Linked DNA regions of Homo sapiens: regions 1 and 2 are each linked to region 3. Evidence: fine-mapped expression QTL. A gene starts in region 3. Each other region holds a variant in brackets. All regions are shown on one strand. Distances are from middle to middle. Region 1 overlaps AKAP19 (A-kinase anchoring protein 19). Region 2 overlaps INPP1 (inositol polyphosphate-1-phosphatase). Region 3 holds the start of HIBCH (3-hydroxyisobutyryl-CoA hydrolase).

Region 1 (2,853 bases), 120 kb after region 3:
TGGTTGGGAAAAGAAATCAAAGACTAATAATTCATGACGTGAAAATTATCAGAATTCACAAATAAAGCTTTATTGGAACTAGCTATACTCATCTGTTTATATATTATCTGTGGCTGCTTTGAAATGAGTAGTTGCAATAGAGATGGTAAAGCCTACAAAGCCTAATTATTTACTGTCTGGTTTTTGTCAGAAAAAAGTTTGTCAATCCTTGTTTTAGAAGATGGAAAAATGTGAAGATCTTTGGAGATTCTCTTGAGTGGTATATCTAATTGAAATGGGATCTTCGTTTGGCTTGTATGTTGATGAAATCAACTTAGGTATACAATATAAAAAATAAAGACCCTGAAAATTGTTTTGGATACTGTGTTAATGCCTCATAGAATTTTTGTTTTGGATACTGTGTTAATGCCTCATAGAATTTTCTCCATATATGAGTGTGTTTTAAAGTAACTGAGTTACTGTAGCAGAAGAGCTCCTTTTATAAACATTAGAAACCTTGGGCAGAGAGAAAAGATTTTTATTAACGTCCCTCTTCAGTATTAACTCAGACTTGGTCTTCCCTAAAATAATCAGAATACCATCCCATGGTGAAACTGAAAGGATTATTTTCTTGTTATTTGTGATATTTGTTAATCTGGTAGAATGAGAAATTAGGAAACTCCAATCTCTTAGATAGAGACACTCTGTTTTTTTATAATTTACGTAAGACTTTTGTGTGATAATTATCCTTACAAACAAGGTTCAAGTCAGGAGAAAAAAATTAATTGAAAGCAAGAAGACTTTTGTTCAAAAGATATATTCAATAATTGATATTGTTAATGAAGTAAGTACTTTTTAAGGTATGAAAGAACTAAAAGGTATTCCAGACTCAGAACCTTAAAGTTCTAGGCAAGAATAATTTTTAAACTAAAGGTAAGTTTATAAATTAACAAAGTAAACAAAATTTATGATTTTGTTTTTTGTTTGTAATTTTTGTTTAATTTTAAAGGTAAGTTTATAAATTAACAAACAAAATTTATAATTTTTTGTTTGTAATTTTTGTTTATAAACAAAATAAATTTTTTGTAACTTGTTATAGTTTCTCCTTCATCCCATACTCTTTAGAAACTAAGTGAACTTCAGGTTTGTAAGAATAAAAAGCCAACGGAACTGAAAAAGACATTAAAGATCATGTCCTGCACCCTTCTCATAGATGAGGAAATGGCAGCCCAGAAGGTATTGCTTTATGTTTTCTCAGTTCTTAATCTGTTTTATGTGAAGCATTTTTCTTTCAAATAATTCAGTAACAGATCTGGAATAAAGATGCCATGATATCGGATACATTTACATTTATACTCTTAAAGGTCCTAAATTGGACCTGAATGATCCAAGAAATTATTTGTATAAATGGATTTTTGTTCTCTATATTTGTTAACAATGCAGAAAATGTTGTCTTTTATATTGTTAAAAAATTCAAAGTACACACTGTCAGAAAGCATTTGCTTCAGTTAAATAAGAGCTCACACTAGTTAATTGCAACTGGA[C/G]TTTTATTGTGCAGTTACAACAACAAATGTTTTCAGAAAAATATTTGGAAAAAATATACCACTTCATAGCTAAGTCTTACAGAGAAGAGGATTTGCTAATAAAACTTAAGTTTTGAAAATTAAGATGCAGGTAGTGCTTCTGAACTAATGCCCACAGCTCCAAGGAAGACATGTCCTATTTAGTTATTCAAATACAAGTTGAGGGCATTGTGATTAAGCAAACAATATATTTGTTAGAACTTTGTTTTTAAATTACTGTTCCTTGACATTACTTATAAAGAGTCTCTAACTTTCGATTTCTAAAACTATGTAATACAAAAGTATAGTTTCCCCATTTGATAAAAGGCCAATGATACTGAGTAGGATATATGCGTATCATGCTACTTCATTCAGTGTGTCTGTTTTTAATACTAATAAGGCAGTTTGACAAATTATTTCTTTGGGACTAAGGTGATTATCATTTTTTTCCCCTTCAAAATTGTGCTTTAAGTGCTGATAACCACAGGCAGATTGCAAAGAACTGATAAGGCAACAAAAGTAGAGAATTTTAGGATCAAAGGCATGTAACTGAAAGGTAACAACAGTACATAAGCGACAACTGGGGAAGGCAGCAGTGAAACATGTTTGTGGGGTTAAGTGAGTCATTGTAAATAAGGAATTTGCACATTTATTTTCTCTGATAACCTGCTTCCATGTTGCCACCTGGAGGCTCTTTGTTGTGCTGGTAGAAGCCCATTTGCCCTTACTCTGGATGTTCCAAATGTTTCCCTTTCCAGGAGCTAGTCAGTCTTTCAGTCATCTGTTTTATATGTCTCCTGCCTTCTCAGACAGTCCTTCTACTCTCTTTTATTGTTCATGAAAGACCTTCAAATTGAAGTAAAGCCCATATTTCAATATAAAGATATGAAAGAAGGCTAATATCCTATCAGTGATATTCTCATCCATCTTGTCATGAAGGCCATACCATGATAACTATCACATGTAATGTAAATTTGTTTATTCATCTCTCTTATTCATTTATTCATCTTTTTTCATTTGTTTATTCATCTTTCTCCCATTTGCTCCTGTCTTGATTTATCCACTAGCTCACTGATTATGCAAGCCTTGTAGTTCATATATGTCATGGGTTAACATACAATACAGCATATATTTCAGACATAAGTGTTTCAGAAATATTGTACAGAAGATATTGTACTCTATTAAAATGTGATTCAGGGACAAGGGAGTGGTGCTTGGTGATAAAAGTATACTGCCATAGTTGCTGAGGAAGGGCAGCAACAGAAATCAGACTTCTAGTTGATATGGATCTGGCAGGCATCTCTGTCACACC
Region 2 (2,500 bases), 47 kb before region 3:
CCCCTTAAGAGATGTACATGCCAGCAGCTGACTGCTGACGTCTAGGGAGTCAACACACGGCTAAGGATGTGCCTGGCAAAAGACTCAAAGAGCTCAAAAACAGAATCAATTCAGGGTGGAACCAAGAAACAGGAGATCTCTGTCCCTCAGAAACTATAACTGATGCCAATTTACCCTTAAATGATCAAAGATTTGGGGAAAGGTTTTTAGTTTCCATATATCATCCACTGGCTGAATGTGATATAATTATCTGAAGATTAAACCCATTTCAGTATCATCCTGTGAATGCACTTGTAGGATGGGAAGGGCCCAGAGAGGAGTTTGCCTGGTCCTTGAATGGTCCCATTGTGTTGGGTGGGGAAGAAAAAAAAGGAAGGGGGAGCTTATTAAAATTATTACCTAGAACTTGTATTAATAGCATCATTGAAGATAAAGGCTGGCTGGGCATGGTAGGTCATGCCTGTAATCATCCTAGCACTTTAGGAGGCCAAGGCAGGCAGATCGCTTGAACCCAGGAGTTCGAGACCAGCCTGGGAAACATGGTAAAAACCCCTTCTCTAAAAACAATATAAAAAATTAGCCTAGTGAGGTGGCATGCAACTCTGCCACCTACTTGGGTCCCAGCTACTTGGGAAGCTGAGATAGGAGGATTGCTTGAGCTCAGGAGGACAAGGCTGCAGTGAGTGAGTTCTGACTGTGCCACTGCACTCCAGCCTGTGTGCAACACGAGACTCTGTCTCAAAAAAAAGGGTTACATTTTCAAAACAATGGATTATACATTATGGTTCTATCACAATCATGACCAAAAAAAATGTAGAGCTCATGCAGGGCTCACAAACTGCTCATGCGTCACATTCAGCTTTTTGCTTGACCTGTACTGTGTTTTTTTGATTGTTTCCTTCTTTAACTGAATTAGTAGCTAACGGTTAGAAATTGGGATATATCGCTGAAAACCTTGGATTTTGGTTTCTCTTTAAAAATCTGAAGAGCTGGCCTGTACTCCCATATGGTAACAATCTGCTAAAGCTAAGTGCTCTTTAAATGGTATGTGTGCTCAATTGGTCATAACTGCTCTCACTTCATTCTCTCATTTACTTACCAGTCTGGTCCCTGAAGTCTTTTGAAGAGAAGTTAATTCATCTTTGCATGTGTGCCTGTATGTATGTGTGTGTATATACACACACCTGTTATAGATATGTATATATATACACACGGCTATAATATATATGTATATATACAGAACACATGACACATACACCTCAACTCTCATTGTTTTAAAACTTTAAAATTTTAAAAACTTCTAGCAGAGTTAAACTACACTCAATAATTTTTATTTTTCCAACACCCATCCCCAACCCCACCACCAAAAAAAAGATTGCAAATAAGAACAAACATACTTTCCTATACTTACCTATGGGGTCCACCCAAATTCCCAAAATGTCCTGTGGAACATTGATCTCTGTGGAATCCAGAGTTGGGTCAGTAAAGGCAACATCCTGATGAACAACCCTGGCTAATGCTTCAGATGC[C/T]ACCTTGTTACCATTGAGGACTTTGCTAAGAAGCTCTGCTGTTTCCTCCTCTGTTGAACACAACCTCAAGGTAATCTTTTCCCCTAGGGTAAAGCCACACGATAAGCCATTACATTTCAAGAGTTTCAGTGGAGAAAGAACAGAGAGAGAGAGCTAAAGAGTGAGAGAGACAGAGAGAGCGAGAGAGAGAGACAGAGAGAGAGCGAGAGACACAGAGAGCGAGACAGAGCGAAAGAGCGAGAGAGACAGAGCAAGAGAGTGAGAGAGAGACACACAGAGAGAGCGAGAGACACAGCAAAAGAGCGAGAGACAGAGAGAGCAAGACAGAGAGAGTGAGACAGAGTGAGACAGAGTGAGACAGAGTGAGAGCAAGAGAGACAGACAGGGAGAGTGAAAGAGACAGAGCAAAAGAGTGAGACAGAGCAAGCAAGAGAGAGACAGAGCGAGAGAGTGAGACAGAGAGAGTGAGACAGAGCGAGAGAGACAGAGAGCGAGAGAGAGACAGGAAGAGTGAAAGAGACAGAGGGAAAGAGTGAGACAGAGAGCAAGCAAGAGAGAGACAGAGCGAGAGAGCGAGACAGAGCAAGAGACAGAGAGCAAGAGACAAAGAGCGAGAGAGACAGCGAAAGAGCGAGAGAGAGCAAGAGAGACAGAGCGAGACAGAGAGCGAGAGATTCAGGGAGAGACTGAGAGAGACAGAGTGAAAGAGACAGAGAGACAGAGAGAGCAAAAGAGTGAGACAGAGAGCGAGCGAGAGAGAGCGAGACAGAGCGAGAGAGCGAGAGAGAGCGAGACAGAGCGAGAGAGCGAGAGAGAGCAAAAGAGTGAGACAGACAGTGAGCGAGAGACAGTGAGACAGAGCAAGAGAGCGAGACAGAGCAAGAGACACAGAGAGAGACAGAGCAAGAGAGACAGAGAGCGAGAGAGACAGCGAGAGAATGAGACAAAGATTGAGACAGAGAGAGCGAGAG
Region 3 (2,853 bases):
AGCACATAGGCGTTTGCTTTAAATTTTTATAATTTTGCTATATGTTTGAAAATCTTCAAAATAGAATGTTAAGATAATTTTCTTTAAAGGACTGAGGTTTCTAGAGCGGGAAGCCAGAAGACGATAGCATCATTAGAAGAAATAGAGAATTTAGGAATAGGAAGGACAGCTTGGTGGAAGGTGTGGCATAACTGACAGGTCTTGATACCTACGAAGTCCTAAGTAATTTATGCACATATTTCTATATTTCAATGGATCTTCACAAACACCTCTAATCATCAGCACATCCATTTTCAGATGAGAAAATGGAGGTTCTGAAAAGCTATATAATTTGTTCAAGGTCATTAAACTATTAGTGTGCTAGGGGTAGGACTGATTACATAATTTGCAGGCCTAGTGTAAAATGAAAATTTGTGTTTCCTTGTTCAAAAATTATTAATAGCACAGCATTAAAACAAGCACAGGGCCCTTCTAACGATGAGGCCTTGTGAGACTCAGGTTTCACACACATGAAGCTAGGGCGGCAAGGAAGATTTGAATCTCAGTCTGACTAACAGGAAAGCCCATGCTTTTTCCAGTAAACCATGCTAGGTCAGATGAATGGTTCATTTCTGTGCGCAGTGAATGAGGCATGATGGTGATGTCAGATGGTGATGTCCTGTAGCCAGTTAAAAACCAAATTGCAGGTAAGGAGTTCCTTCTGTGATGTCTGTTGTCTGTCCTCTTCTCAGTGGGCATTTGGTTATTACATTTGACCTAGGTTAGCAACGTAATTTTTGATCAAAGTCTCAACAGTGTATCTCTTTAAATATCAAGGTACTAAGAATAACTCCTTTCATGTGTCCTCTCTGAAATTTGTCACCGGATTTCTTCTTTCTGATAAATGTGTCAATACTTAATAGTGGCGATGAAATGTCTTCTGCTACACATCTGGGTGGATCTGGAAGCGGAGGAACGTTTTCCTCAATTTAACAGTGGATCCTAGTAGTTGAGTTAAATGTTGGTTTCATTTAAGAGTAAGCTACTTTCTGAATGTAATTATGCTTCCACTGATAACAGCAACTTTTACTTTAGTTGGGAAGACATATCTATTATGTCTTAATCAGACAACTCTTGTGTGTCTTTGAGGAAGAGTGGGAGATCTGTAACTTTTCCCAAGAAAAATGAAAATGTCTCAATCCTAATATTAAAGGAATTCGGCTGTATTGGGTTAGGAATGAATAAACTACATCGATGTCCTTTATCAACTGTAATTCCTCTACTTGAGTCTCAAAGAATACTAAGTTTACGTTTTAATAAAAAATTACTAAAATTCCAGAAAAGTCTTTCACATCAGTCCCTGCTGGTCAAATTGGCAGGCCAAGCCTAGACAACAGGTTGCGCTTTGGGCTAAGACAGCCTCTAGAGGGCAATCTCCTTTCCTGCGAATCCGCCCTAGTCCGTTCTATCCTCCCTCTTCCCGCTCCGCCTCAGCTCGCTCTCCGCCTTCTCCCTGGCCCGGTCCCCGATCCCTTCCTCTCCCTCAACTATTTCCTCCAGGCGTCGTTCTTGCCCCGCCCTTCCCCGTCGCGTAGCGGAAACGGTCGCTCTGGCTTCCTGGAGGACTTGTCATCTGTGCCCGGCGGCGCAGGACGGCGGTGGGCGGGGCTCACGCGAGGCGCTGGAACGGTCCGGGAGATTCTCGCTCTGCTGCTTTAGCTTCGGAGTGTTTGGCGATGGGGCAGCGCGAGATGTGGAGGCTCATGTCGAGGTGAGTGAGAGAGCGAGGGGCCAAGGGCAGGCTCTTCAGCGGCACTCGCCACAGTGGGAAAAGGGCCGGGGGTGGAGACTGCTGGCCTCGAAGTTTCGAGTCGCGCTCAGAGGCGCCGCTGTGAGACCCCAACCTTGGCCCTCCCCAAGCCCCAGCCCCCGTCCCTGTCTTTCCTTTCTCCCTCTAGCATCTTCTTTGCAGCAGCACTCTGGTTTTCTGCCACTCTGGCTCTTAATTCAGGCTTGTCCCCACACGACTTTAATTCTTTTGGCCTCAGTTTCTTTCCTTTCTTAAAAGTTGGGTGCAGTCTGGGGACACGGACAGATTTAGCTTAGCGGAACTGTGCGGCATGTTTTGTGCAGCCAGCACACACAGGTGCTTTGCCAGTTGCTGCACCTCTCTCTGCCCGTGGTGTGATTTTATTCAGCTTTCTTGCATGGCTGCAGCGTCAGTATAGGCATTTGGAACTTTCAGGCTAGTGTTGAGGGACATTTAACGTGGCATGGGGGAGCATGTTTGCAAACATTGTTTAACTTTTTGAAAGTACCCCTCACTGCGCTTTGAGCTCAGCCTAGGAAATCTGGTAGCCATCATCTTTAGGCTGCATGCGCCTTAAACAGCCCACTGCCTGGCCCTGTACTGTCATACCAGGTAGCAGCTGCGCCCACTTGAAGGGAGAACCGTCCTTATTTCTTTAAAATAAGGACGACTTAAATTACTGGATTCTTTAAGCCTTAGAGTTTGCCTTCTGGGTTTCCTGAAAAGGGATGGAGGTGTTTCCTTGACTTAAGAAGAATAGTTTCAGGGGAAAGTGTCTAGATGTCTAACACTGTATCCACAGACCTAATTCTCAGTAAATTTTTGTTATACATTTAAGAGTTGCTTTTCTGTTTGTTTTTTTAATACCTTAAAATTAGTTGTCCTTGCACCAGCTCATGGAGAGATTTAGTAAATGCTAAGAAAATCAGTACACGTAATCGTTACTGCCGCTTTTTCAGTGTTGTCAGCAAATAGCAAATAGAGAAACAAACTGGAAAGACATGTTTGTTAAAGTTAGCTGACTTAGGAAAGGATCTGTCATTTCCACAATTCAGCTTGGCTTT

What was found. PIP is the estimated chance that this variant, and not a neighbour inherited with it, causes the effect.
Region 1: its variant is the best candidate, but not a certain one, in a credible set for the expression of HIBCH in whole blood (TOPMed, PIP 0.66).
Region 2: its variant is the best candidate, but not a certain one, in a credible set for the expression of HIBCH in fibroblasts (GTEx, PIP 0.50).

The regions. Positions count from the first base shown.
Region 1 is chr2:190,202,140-190,204,992 of GRCh38, reverse strand. AKAP19 (A-kinase anchoring protein 19) reads right to left here. Exons shown (of 2, transcript NM_001042519.2): 2 at 1,509-2,853. HIBCH (3-hydroxyisobutyryl-CoA hydrolase) reads left to right here. Exons shown (of 14, transcript NM_014362.4): 14 at 1-1,073. Among named protein-coding and RNA genes, the nearest start is that of AKAP19, 23 kb to the right of the region's middle. The variant C/G (reference allele first, on the strand shown) is at 1,524.
Region 2 is chr2:190,365,807-190,368,306 of GRCh38, reverse strand. It overlaps INPP1 (inositol polyphosphate-1-phosphatase), which reads right to left. Exons shown (of 7, transcript NM_001128928.2): 5 at 1,412-1,612. Among named protein-coding and RNA genes, the nearest start is that of INPP1, 23 kb to the right of the region's middle. The variant C/T (reference allele first, on the strand shown) is at 1,530.
Region 3 is chr2:190,318,613-190,321,465 of GRCh38, reverse strand. HIBCH (3-hydroxyisobutyryl-CoA hydrolase) reads left to right here and starts at 1,640. Exons shown (of 14, transcript NM_014362.4): 1 at 1,640-1,750. The coding sequence starts at 1,716.